3 separate regions of the Homo sapiens genome follow, and regions 2 and 3 are each linked to region 1. Evidence: fine-mapped expression QTL. A gene starts in region 1. Each other region holds a variant in brackets. All regions are shown on one strand. Distances are from middle to middle.

Region 1 (4,229 bases):
CCACACCGGGCCAAAGGAGATGATACTCAGTTTCTTAAAGTGTTTGCGCATACTATCTTCATTACTGAAGAATTTCTGTTATCTGGAAACATTCTTTCTAGACTGTTACTAAAATTCATCAAGGTCAAAGCTAAATTCTTACCTGTGGGTAAGAGATGAGTTGTCTGTACAAATTTTTGTCAAATGATTTGATGTGTTCACAGTTCACATTTAAAAATGGCTCACCAATAACATTAATCTAGAAAATAAAAATGAACAAGTTATATTTTGCTAATTTAACTATTTTAAAACACGTAACTTGAATTTAAAGAGTATTTGATTACCTCCCCAAGTCGTTGCATGTATAGAGGTTCAGTAATATCTATGCCAACATTTTCTTCTTCTTTAGCCAGAGGGTCAATAAAACGCTGAAGAAATCTCTTTAAGTGGAGAGAAAACTGTATTAGGCATATAGCATTTGGGAACAGGCAACTACTAAAAACACACAAAGTTATGAGTATGTCACTATCAGGAGACAGAAATAAATAATATTTTTCTTCCTTTTTCTTTTCTAAAATTTAATTTGGAGATGGAGTCTCACTATATTGGTCAGGCTGCTATCAAACTCCTGGCCTCAAGTGATCCTCCCACCTTGGCCTCCCAAAGTACTGGGATTATAGGTGTGAGCCACCACAGGTGGCCCTTCTAGTCATTATGGCTACTTAGATATAGATTATAAACACGGTCTCCCAACATTTTCAGAGCCCAAAGTAAGAATTTTAATACATGTAGCTCACCTGAAAGTTTTCTTTGCATGCTGCCACATTTACATCTGTTCCCCAGATCACAAGTTTTTGGCCTAGAGACTGCTCACTTGCCACTATATCTTCTGCTGCTGCCTACACAGAAAAACATGACAGAATCATGAAAACAGAGTTACCCACATGATACCCGCCATAAGATGGTTTCAGGAGACTGCATACTCACCCCGTCAGACTGCAGATCCACTTGCAGGCCCTTCTGTGCAGAGCCCAGGTCAGGCCTCTGTCTCACAGGTGTGCCCCTAACACCACTTCTTGGGGTTCCCTCTACCCGAGAGCTGGGAGTGCCGTATGTCAGTGGTGAACTAACATCAAAGTCAAGAGGGATAGCTATAAAAACAAAATTAGGAAATTCTGGTGGCATATCAAACCTGAAATTACAGCATGTTGTCTGTTGATCTATACCATCTAATCGCAACAGCAAACTGAATATTTATTGCAACCTGCGGTGGCTGAGATTCTGAGCACTCTTAAATGTTCTATTAAAAAAAAGCACCAGAGAAGCTGCTTCCTCTGCTCACTAAGCCCTAAAACTACTATTTTCTGCACTCCGTTCAGCTCCTCTGGTTAAGAACATGCTCAGTCACGTGCAGAGGGGATGCTTTAGGCGTTATGCCAACTGTTATAAAGCCAGTAAACCTGAGCAGATAAAGCATCAGCTGTGTATCAAGCACAGCAAAACCAAGATCTTCAGACACGCACCTGAAGAATGCATTTGGGGAGGGCTGGAAAACAGCACGTCCTGCGCAGCAGGGCTCTGCAGGTCCACTCCAGGCGAGGTTGGCATCGGCTGCAACTCCCCCGTGGAGGTGGAATCCTCGCCTCTACGTCTCTGAGAGGGAGATGACCTGGCATCCTCACTCCGAGCTTGTGTCACACAAAACAGAAAAGACAGCCATTAACTTTCAGGGCCGGCCTTCCTGGATTTGTCTTTTCCTTGGGGCATTATGACTCACCACTGAACCAAACCAAACAGAGGCAAATGGCAATCGAATTAAGCAGCACCCAGGCCACAGCCTGCTGTGGGTGTCTGTGCGCACCAAGCGGCAGCGCCCAGCCCGAGGCTGAGCGCCCGGGTCCCGCGCACCCACCCAGCGCTGCCAGCTGCGGCGAGAGGGCAGACGGGGCGGCGCCGGGGGCTGTAGTGGGCCCGGCTCGGGGGACTCACGCGTCTGGGCGGGGGTGGCCCTTCCACGCCGGCTGCCGCGGCGGCTCGGGGTCGACGCCGGGGACGACATAGTGCTCGGAGTACCTGCGCGACAAGGACAAGCTCGGGCCGGGCCCGCCTCCCGGCTTCCCTGCCCTGCTCCGCAGCGCGGACGTTCCCGTCGGCTCCGCGCCACGCCCTCCCCGCCGGCGCGCGGTTACCGTGGAAAGGCGGCCGCTTGCCGACGACGCTCGCGGACTCCGAGTCCACCTGGCGAGTAGCGCTCCCAAACCGCGAGACCCAGAGTTCCCGCCGGCGGCAAGGTCGTCTCCGCCCCTGGCGGGGCCTCACCAATCACAGCGGCGCTCGTACGTGGCTCCGCCTCCGGGAGGCGCCACTGCGCATCGGCAGGGGGGGACAGTGCCGCTTCTTTCAGCGCCCGTGCGTAAACCAGAAGTAGGCCTCGCTCGGCCCCCCTTGGTCCAGATGGTCTGACCCCCTGCGCGGCAGCGTTTTCGCGGGAAAACTGGGTCCTACAGCACCAGCTCTCGGGGTGTGTTCCTCTAGCGTTGGCTAGGGAGCGTGTGCTTCTTTATCCCTTAGGCGTTTTTGGTTAATAAGGACATTACAGATGCATTTCTCACTTAAAGATTTTTTTTATTAAAAAAAATTAAGGACGGGAGGTGGTGGGGATGGTCTCATTATGTTGCCCAGACTGGTCTCGAACTCCTGCGATCCCCCCGCCTCAGCTTCCTAAAGTGTTGGGACTGCAGGCGGGCATCACCGCCCCCGACCGCGTTTGTCGTTTTTTATCGAGGAACAAACTTGGAACTCTTGACCTAGGCCCCTCGCTTGTTTTATCTGCCTCTGGTATTTATTTAGCCAAGTCCAACACCAAGTAGCCACCCAAACTACCTCCGCAGGTCAGACGTTTTTCCTTAGGTTTCCATGTTGATTCGGGCCAAAGAGGCGCGCTTACTGGCCAGGCCTTCCCGCAGGGGTCCCCGGGAAAGTTCCTGCCGCCGCGCCCCGCAGCCCCGCCTCCGCGCGTAGGGGCATTTCCGGGTCCGGGCCGAGCGGGCGCACGCGCGGGAGCGGGACTCGGCGGCATGGCGGGCTCCGGAGCCGGTGTGCGTTGCTCCCTGCTGCGGCTGCAGGAGACCTTGTCCGCTGCGGACCGCTGCGGTGCTGCCCTGGCCGGTCATCAACTGATCCGCGGCCTGGGGCAGGAATGCGTCCTGAGCAGCAGCCCCGCGGTGCTGGGTGGGTACCGGCCCGAGCTGGGCCGCGGGTGGGTCCTGGCTTCCCGAGTCGTTCTGGAGCCGGGCAGCCCGGCGCTTCTCTGTGTTTAGATGACGGTATTTTGAAGTACAGCAATTAGATTCTTGGGGGAATTTCTGTGTATGTGTATAAAGGGATTTGTCATACTGCTTTTTACCCCCTAGTATTAGAGGAAAGATATTTTAAAGCCAAAGTTGGTGAAAACGACCCCTAATATGGCAATCATTGCTATGCAGAGTGGGGGGCAGGGCAAGAGAAATAATTTTTTTTTTTTTTGAGACGGAGTCTCGCTCTGTCGCCCAGGCTGGAGTGAAGTGGCGCGATCTCGGCTCACTGCAACCTCCGCCTCCCGGGTTCAAGCTATTCTCCTGCCTCAGCCCCCCGAGTAGCTGGGATTACAGGCGCGCGCCACCACGCCCGGCTAATTTTTTTGTATTTTTAGTAGAGATGGGGTTTCACCATGTTGGTCAGGCTGGTCTCGAACTCCTGACCTCGTGATCCCCCCGCCTCGGCCTCCCAAAGTGCTGGGATTACAGACGTGAGCCACCGGGCCCGGCCAAGAGAAAGTATTTTCTTTCACCTGAATCTCGCCTAATCCCACCAGTACCTTTTCCAAACCCCTCTATTTGCCGTTCCTACTTTGAGAAAAATTGAAGAAATGTAATTGAAGTCATGTTCTTTTAACTCTTTAGCAATGCCTGGGTGGGAACTTTTTCCCCTTTGTAGTAAAAGTGCCTCTTTTTAGCATTTTAAATATTCAAATACTTAATTATGTGGATCTCCTGTATTCCTTCTTTAAAACACGAGTATGCAGACCTTGATGTTGTGCCCTATTAAAAGGTGAGATTTTCTTCCGGAGGGTCTAGTAGTGAATATGGTGTAGGAATAACTTAAACAGTTTAAACTAGATGCTATATGTGGCACGGTGCGGTGGCTCATGCCTGTAATCCCAGCACTTTGGGAGGCTGTGGCAGCTGGATCACCTGAGGTCAGGAGATGGA
Region 2 (4,000 bases), 78 kb after region 1:
GGTCTCTGCACCCCGGTAGACCTCTCTGTTCTCAGAGTTCTCTTGTGGCCTCGATGCTGAGTTATCATTTCTGGCATGTTCCTGCTGTGTCCCCCTTTCTCCCTGGAGATCAGTATTTAATATATAGTTGACTTTCGTTTGCTAAACCTCTGGGATTTTGAAATTTAACTTGTTCTGTGGACAGAAACTGTTAACTGTTGATATGACCATTTTAAGGGAGAGTACATGATGTCCTAAGTTGAGCTTTTATTGCAAACAGTGCTTTTCTGTTGTAGGGGAATCTTTTGTGGTAGATTGCAGTAGGAATTTGTATTCTTTAAAATTAGAAATAAAATCGTAGTAGATGACACTCAGATTTAACATTCTGATTTCTTAAACTATGACCTCTGATGGAAATGATAGAAAAAACATACGCCTTTGACCTCTATTCCTTCCCTAAATTCCTCTAAAGTAACAGAATGAGATTTTTAAAACACCTCTACAATCTCAAAGGACACAGAGAAAAGGACTTCCAAGAGTGACAAGAGTTGTAAATCAAAAGGACAGGTGTGGCAGACTGCATGCAGAGTTTGAGATAGCAGCGAGGTGATGCAGCCTTCGGAAGTTGGGGTCCACACGTGCTGAGCCCCAGCAGGGCAGACATGCGAGCAGGGGTGAGCAGAGGCTGAGAAGAGAGGATTGGGCAAAGGCCAGCTCTCCCCTGCAGGGCAGCCTCCTGTCTCTGCTGCTGGGGGTCTGATCCTCCCCACTTGAGGAGAAGGCAGGAGGCAGTGACTCCCTGGAGAGGATAGAGACCTCCAGACTGGGGGCTCTGGCATGGCTGAATATGTGGATACCATCAGGAAAAGAGGAAAGTTAAGTACTAACCTACCTAAATTCTAGACTTTCAGGCTGTCTGCCCTTTCCCTCTGAATACTTTCAGTTCAGCATCTGCCCTTGGCAGGGCACCAGAATATCCTGACAAGCCCTAAGAGAAAATAAAGATGCAGGCATCATAGCCAGCTGGGTCAGTGACAGTGATCCTCCCCACCAGCGAGCCCTGCACGCTGCACAGCGCTTCCAGGCAGGTGATACCTGTGAGCCGGCAGCCCAGGGGCTCAGGCACCTGAGGAAAGGGACGCCAGAGGGCGTAGCGGGACACAGGCAACTGTGGCAAGGCCTGTTCAGTGAGATGGAAATGTAAGCTGGAGAAAAAAAACTGAAAGATGAGAGACAAAACTGTGAAATAAGAATTGCTATGGAGAATGAACATCAGAGAACAAAAAAGGCTCTTGGGAATTAAGCATAGGCATCAGAAATTAAAAATGAAATGAGTTTGGAAGGTAAACTTGAGTAACTCTCACAGAGAGTAGAGTGAAAGACAAAACAGAAAACACGAGAGAAAAGAGGAGGAGACTAGGGATTCATGCATGAGGTTGAGCAGCAGGGCCTTGGCTCCGGAGGGCAGGGGTCAGGAGTGGCATTTGCTGAGGACACAGCTCCAGAGGAGCCCAGAAGCAAAGGCTTTGAGTTTCCAGGTAGAAGAGGGCCATGGAGTGTCCAGCATGGTGCACAGAAACAGCTCCACGTGGAGCACATTTCTTGAGAATTCAGAACCGTGGGGTTTCACTACAATAAAAGATTCTCAGGTTTCCACTGGAGAAAAAGCAGTTATGTGTGAAAGGATCTAGAAATTGAATGACATATGTCTTCTCAGCGGCAGTGTGGACATTGCAAGACTTGAACCAGATTTCTTCCATAGTTCATAAGAGAAATCTTCAGCCTAGAGTTCTGAATCCAGCTGGATTATCCATTATGTGAGAGTGGAATACAGATGTTTTAGACATGCCAGATCCCCAAGAGGTCCCTGTGCACTCTCATCACGATGCTGCTGGGTAGAGAGTGATCAGGCAGTGAGCCAAGACAGGGGAAGGTGCTGGATACAGTATGTCGGCCCCGCACAGAGGCGTGGATGGCCCAGCACCAGGTCCAGCACCAGCATTGCAGATCAAGAGCTGAGTTGCCACAGAAATGGGGCAGATAGACCTGATAGGCTTAGAGGGCTTGCAGCAATTTCATAACTTGGGAGAGTTTGATGACGAATTAATGACAGACAC[A/G]TTGAAAAGAGCAATGAAAGCAAACAAGGTTAGCTTCAGAGAGTACAAAATGTGCAAAAAGGGAAAAGCATTGTTTCTACTTGGAACATCTGTGAAAAATGTTTGCATAGTCAGAATGACAGGAATAGTGCATGTTAATCTGACCAAAATTAGCCTGTCACTCTGTTGCAGGAGTGGTGGTGAGACAGAAAATGTGGGTGTGCATGTATGATGGTAGTTGAACAAGAAGTGTGCGTTTGCGTGTGTGCATGTTTGCTTGTGTGTGTACACCTGTGTGTGCTAGTGTGTGCCTGTATGGTGGTGGTGGGACCGGAAGTATGTGCTTGGGTGCATGTTTGCTTATGTGTGTACATCTGTGTGCTTGTGCATGCATGTACAGTGGTGGTGGGATAGGAAGTGTGCATTTGTGCATATGTGCATATTTGTGTGCTTGTGCGTGTACACCTGTGTGTGCTTGTGCATGCATGTACAGTGGTGGTGGTGGTGACAGAAGAGAGCTGACTCCTTTTTCCTAGACTGCGCAGACTAGGAAAGCCAGGAGAAGCTGGATGAGCCTGATGACATAGCTAAGGCCACCCTGTACTTTGTGGAAAAACTATGGTTAAAGTGTACCTCAAATCAAACTCGAGGAGTTTTGAAGTAGATAAACATCTATTATAGAAATAGCTTATTTATTTTCCAAGAATAGCTTTGAAATAAAGGTAAATTTTGTTTTCTGTCATTCTCAAAATTAAGAATTTTTCTTCACTCACAACGAAATTGTCTCAGGTGAGTGCCGTTTTGAACGGCATGTTAGACCAGAGCTTCAGGGAGCGAGCAAACCAGAAACACCAAGGACTGAAACTTGCGACTACAATTCTGCAACACTGGAAGAAGTGTGATTCATGGTGGGCCAAAGATTCCCCTCTCGAAACTAAAATGGCAGTGCTGGCCTTACTGGCAAAAATTTTACAGGTATTCAATTCCTTTAAAAAGCAGTCATGTTTATTCTTCTGAACTCTGTAACTTGTGTCTTTAAAATTTGATGGAGGTTGCTCCAAAAGCTCATTGGTTTGACAAATAAGAAAATATTTTGACAGGATGGTTGCTTATATTTACCTTTTTAAACTTTTTCCATTATTTATTAGACTTACTATTTCTTATGCTATATCTTTTTAAAGTACCTTTGCATGTATTGTCCTAACAGATAGTATTACAATGTTTTACAATAAGATTGTGAAAATATTATTGAAGCCCAAAATTAAATTAACAATTCATTTCTGGAATTTAAACATTTGAGCAATGGGCTAAAGGAAATAGAGATGTAATATACAAATGTGTCCTGTTTTTCTTTTCCTTCCTTTAGATTGATTCATCTGTATCTTTTAATACAAGTCATGGTTCATTCCCTGAAGTCTTTACAACATATATTAGTCTACTTGCTGACACAAAGCTGGATCTACATTTAAAGGTAAACAGTGAAATATTTATTTTTTTGGATTACATTCTCTTCTGTTTTCGTATTTTTTATTTGTGATGTTTTTTATTTTTTATTATGGAAAATTTCAAACGTGTTCAAATGTAGGGAGACTAGCACAGTAATCCCCCGTACTTATTAGCCAGTCTCGATAACCATCCTGTGTGGGTGTGTTTGTTTCACCTGTGCGGTCAACCCACCCGTCAGCAGGCAAGGAAGGCCAAGCAGGCCGGGTGTGTTATCTGACCTGTATCTGCTTCAGTTCAGTGTGCCTCTCCAAGACATGAGAACATTTCTTTCTTTCTTGCTTGCTTGCTTGCTTTCTTGCTTTCTTGCTTTCTTGCTTTCTTTTTTTTTTTTTTTTTTAGACAGTCTCGCTCTGTCACCCAGGCTGAAGTACAGTGGCACAATCATGGCTCACTGCAACCTCCGCCTCTTGGGTTCAAGT
Region 3 (4,280 bases), 57 kb before region 1:
CTCCCAAGTGGAATTATAGGCATATGGCACCATGCCTGGCTAATTTTTTTTTTTGAAACGGAGTCTAGCTCTGTCACCCAGGCTGAAGTGCAGTGGCGCAATCTCGGCTCACTGCAGCCTCCACCTCCCAGGTTCACGTGATTCTCCTGCCTCAGCCTCCTGAGTAGCTGGGATTACAGGCATGTGCCACCACGCCTGGCTAATTTTTGTATTTTTAGTAGAGACGGGGTTTCACCATGTTGGTCAGGCTGTTCTCAAACTCCTAACCTCATGATCCGCCAGCCTCAGCCTCCCAAAGTGCTGGGATTACAGGCATGAGCCACCATGCCCTGCCGTTTTTTTGAGACAGTCTCGCTCTGTTGCCCAGGCTGGAGGGCAGTGGCGCAATCAAGGCTCACTGCAATCTCCCGACTCCCAGGTTCACACGATTCTCCTGCCTCAGCCTCCCGAGTAGCTGGTACTACAGGAGCCCACCACCACGCCCAATTTTTGTTTGTTTTGTTTTGAGCAGGAGTCTTGTTCTGTCACCCAGGCTGGAGTGCAGTGCCGTGATCTCGGCTTACTGCAACCTCTGCCTCCCAGGTTCAAGCAATTCTCTGCCTCAGCCTCCCAAGTAGCTGGGGTCACAGGCGCCCGCCACCACACCTGGCTAATTTTTGTATTTTTAGTAGAGATGGGGTTTCACCATTTTGGCCAGGCTGGTCTTGAACTCCCAACCTCGTGCTCCACCTGCCTTGGCCTCTCAAAGTGCTGGGATTACAGGTGTGAGCCACCGCTCCTGGTCCAATTTTTGTATTTTTAATAGAGATGGGATTTCGCCATGTTGGCCAGGTTGGTCTTGAACTCCTGATCTCAAGTGATCCGCCCGCCTCGGCCTCCCAAAGTGCTGGGATTACAGGCATGAGCCACTATGCCTGGCCCCCAATAAAATAGATTTTTAAATCAAAAACTGTAAAAAAAAGATAGAGAAGGTCATTATGTAATAACAAAGGGGTCAATTTAGCAAGAGAATAATTGTAAATATATATGCACCCAACATCAAAGCACCTAAATATATAAAGCAAATATTAATAGATCTGAAAGATAGGTTGTACTACAGTAACAGTAGGAGATTTTCACACCTCACAATTAGCAATGCACAGATCATGCAGACAGAAAGCCAACAAGGAAACATGAGACTTAAGCTACACTATAGAACAAATGGACCTAAAAGACATACACAGAACATACCATTCAACAGTGGCATAATACATTATTTTAAGCTGCACATGGAACATTCTCAAGGATAGATCATATGTCAAGCCACAAAATAAGTCTTAACAAATTTAAGAAGATGGAAATCATATCAAATATCTTTTCTGACCACAATGGTATAAAACTAGAAATCATTAACAGGAGGATCTTCAGAAAATTCACAAAAACATGGAAGTTAAACACATGCTCTTGAACAACCAATAGGTCAATGAAGATATTAAAAAACAAATTAGGAAGTTTATTGAAAAAAATGAAAACTGAAACACACAGCATACAAAGCCTATGGAATACAGCAAAAGCAGTTTTAAGACAGAAGTTTTTATAACAATAAACACTGACATCATATGTCTTCTGCAAACAGGAACAGTTTAACTTCTTTTCCAATTAAGATGCCTTGTATTTCTTTCTCTTGTCTTATTGCTCTTTCTAGGACTTCCAGTATTATGTTGAACAGAAGTGGCAAAATTGGGCATTGTGCAGCTGGGCATGGTGGCTCACACCTGTAATCCCAGCACTTTGGGAGGCCGAGGCGTGTGGATCACCTGAGGTCAGGAGTTCGAGACCAGCCTGGCCAACATGGCGAAACCCCATCTCTACTAAAAATACAAAACATTAGCCAGGTATGGTGGCGTGCACCTGTAGTCCCAGCTACTCGGGAGGCTGAGGTGAGAGCCTGGGAAGTTGAGGCTGCAGCGAGCCGTGACTATGCCACTGCACTCCAGCCTGGGTGACAGGTTGAGACTGTCTCAGGAAAAAAAAAAAAAAAAAGGCAATCTATGAAACTACTAGAAAACAGGAAGAAAAGTCAATGGCATTGGTCTGGGCAATGATTTTTGGAGGATATGACCTCAAAAGCACACTCAACAAAAGCAAAAACAGACAATTTGGATCACATAAAACTAAAAATCTCCTGCACTGCAAAGGAAACAATAAAGAGAGAACTGGCAGGCGCGGTGGCTCTCGCCTGTAATCCTAGCACTTTGGGAGGCTGAGGCAGGCAGACCACCTGAGGTCGGGAGTTTATTACCAGCCTGACCAACATGGAGAAATCCCGTCTCTACTAAAAATACAAAATTAGCAGTGCATGGTGGCACATGCCTGTAATCCCAGCTACTTAGGAGGCTGAAGCAGGAGAATCCCTTGAACCCAGGAGGCAGAGCTTGCAGTGAGCTGAGATCGTGCCATTGCACTCCAGCCTGGGCAACAAGAGCGAAACTCCACCAAAAAAAAAAAAAAGAGAGAGAGAACATACAGAATGGTTCACTATACTCGTAAACTATATATCTGATAAGGGGTTAATAACCAAAATATATAAGGAACTCCATTCAATACCAAGAAAATAACCTCATGTAAAAATGGGTAAAAGATCTGAATAGACATTTCTCAAAAGACATACAAATGGCCAAGAG[G/T]TATATGAAAAAAATTCTCAACATCACTAATCATCAAAGAAATGCAAAAAAAAACCCACATGAGGTATCACCTCACTCCCATTAAAATGGCTATAATCAAAAGGATGAAAGATGAGGCCAAGCGCAGTGGCTCACGCCTGTAATCCCAGCACTTTGGGAGGCCAAGGCAGGTGGATCACCTGAGGTCGGGCGTTTGAGACCAGCCTAGCCTGGCCAACATGGTGAAATCATGTCTCTACTAACAATATGAAAATTAGCCAGGCATGGTGGCGGGTGCCTGTAATCCCAGCTACTCGGGAGGCTAAGACAGGAGAATCGCTTGAACCTGGAGGTGGAGGTTGCAGTCAACTGACATCTCGCCACTGCACTCCAGCCTAGGCGACAGAGCGAGACTCTGTCTCAATTAAAAAAAAAAAAAAAAAAAGGCTGGGCACGGCGGCTCACGCCTGTAATCCCAGTACCTTGGGAGGCCAAGGTGGGAAGATCACCTGAGGTTGGGAGTTCGAGAGCAGCCTCACCAACATGGAGAAACCCCGTCTCTAATAAAAATACAAAATTAGCCAGGCATGGTGGTGCGTGGCTGTAATCCCAGCTACTCGGGAGGCTGAGGCAGGAGAATTGCTTGAACCCAGGAGGTGGAGGTTGCAATGAGCCGAGATCATGCCATTGCACTCCAGCCTGGGCAACAAGAGCCAAACTCCGTCTCAAAAAAAAAAAGATGACAGATAACAAGTGTTGGTGAGTATGTGGTGATAAAGGATAATCTAAGCATGCTGTTGGTGGGAATGTGAATTAGTACAACCATATGGAGAAAGAAGAGTATGGAGTTCCTCAAAAACCTAAAAACAGAGCTACCGTATGATCCAGTAATCCTGCTACTGCATATATAGCCAAAGAAAATAAAATCAGTATGTCAAAGAGAGGCCTGCACTCCCATTTTATTGCAGCACTACTCAAAATATGCAAGATATAGAATCAACCTAAGTATCCATCAACCAACAAATGGATAGGCTGAGCGCGGTGGCTCACGCCTGTAATCCCCATACTTTGGGAGGCCGAGGCAGATGGATTGCTTGAGGTCAGGAGTTTGAGACCAACCTGGCCAATATGGTGAAACCCCATCTCTACTAAAATACAAAAATTAGCCGGGCTTGGCGGCGGGTGCCAGTAATCCCAGCTACTAGGGAGCCTGAGGCAGGAGAATTGCTTGAACCCAGGAGGTGGAGGTTGCAGTGAGCTGAGAACGCGCCACTGCACTCCAGCCTGGGTGACAGAGTGAGACTCCGTCTCAAAAAAAAAAAAAAAAAAAACCACACAGACAAATGGATAAAGAACATGTGGTATACGTATACAGTGGGACACTGTTCCAATCATAAAAAAGAAGGAAATTCTCTCATTTCCAACAACATGGATGAACCTGGAGAACATTATGTTAACTGAAATAACACAGGCACAGAAAGACAAATACATATTATCTCACTCATATATGGAGTCAAAATTGATCTCACAGAAGTAGACAGGAGATGGTGGTTACCAGAGGTTAGGATGGTTGGGGTTACGGGGGTGGGGATTGGGAAGATGTTAGACAAAGGATACGTAATTACAGTCAGGAGGAAC

Evidence for each region. PIP is the estimated chance that this variant, and not a neighbour inherited with it, causes the effect. A credible set is the group of variants that fine-mapping cannot tell apart.
Region 2: its variant is the best candidate, but not a certain one, in a credible set for the expression of MCM4 in whole blood (INTERVAL, PIP 0.79).
Region 3: its variant is the best candidate, but not a certain one, in a credible set for the expression of MCM4 in whole blood (INTERVAL, PIP 0.67).

Annotation. Positions count from the first base shown.
Region 1 is chr8:47,958,954-47,963,182 of GRCh38, reverse strand. It overlaps MCM4 (minichromosome maintenance complex component 4), which reads right to left and starts at 2,242. Exons shown (of 17, transcript NM_182746.3): 1 at 2,169-2,242; 2 at 1,969-2,052; 3 at 1,503-1,667; 4 at 967-1,130; 5 at 777-878; 6 at 324-419; 7 at 143-238. The coding sequence starts at 2,038. PRKDC (protein kinase, DNA-activated, catalytic subunit) reads left to right here and starts at 3,047. Exons shown (of 86, transcript NM_006904.7): 1 at 3,047-3,210. The coding sequence starts at 3,057. RefSeq lists silencers at 1,809-2,208, 2,879-3,178, 3,189-3,238 and an enhancer at 3,419-3,578.
Region 2 is chr8:47,880,962-47,884,961 of GRCh38, reverse strand. PRKDC (protein kinase, DNA-activated, catalytic subunit) reads left to right here. Exons shown (of 86, transcript NM_006904.7): 37 at 2,865-3,050; 38 at 3,442-3,546. Among named protein-coding and RNA genes, the nearest start is that of PRKDC, 77 kb to the left of the region's middle. The variant A/G (reference allele first, on the strand shown) is at 2,097.
Region 3 is chr8:48,015,589-48,019,868 of GRCh38, reverse strand. All of the region lies in intron 1 of UBE2V2 (ubiquitin conjugating enzyme E2 V2), which reads right to left. Among named protein-coding and RNA genes, the nearest start is that of UBE2V2, 9.3 kb to the right of the region's middle. The variant G/T (reference allele first, on the strand shown) is at 2,664.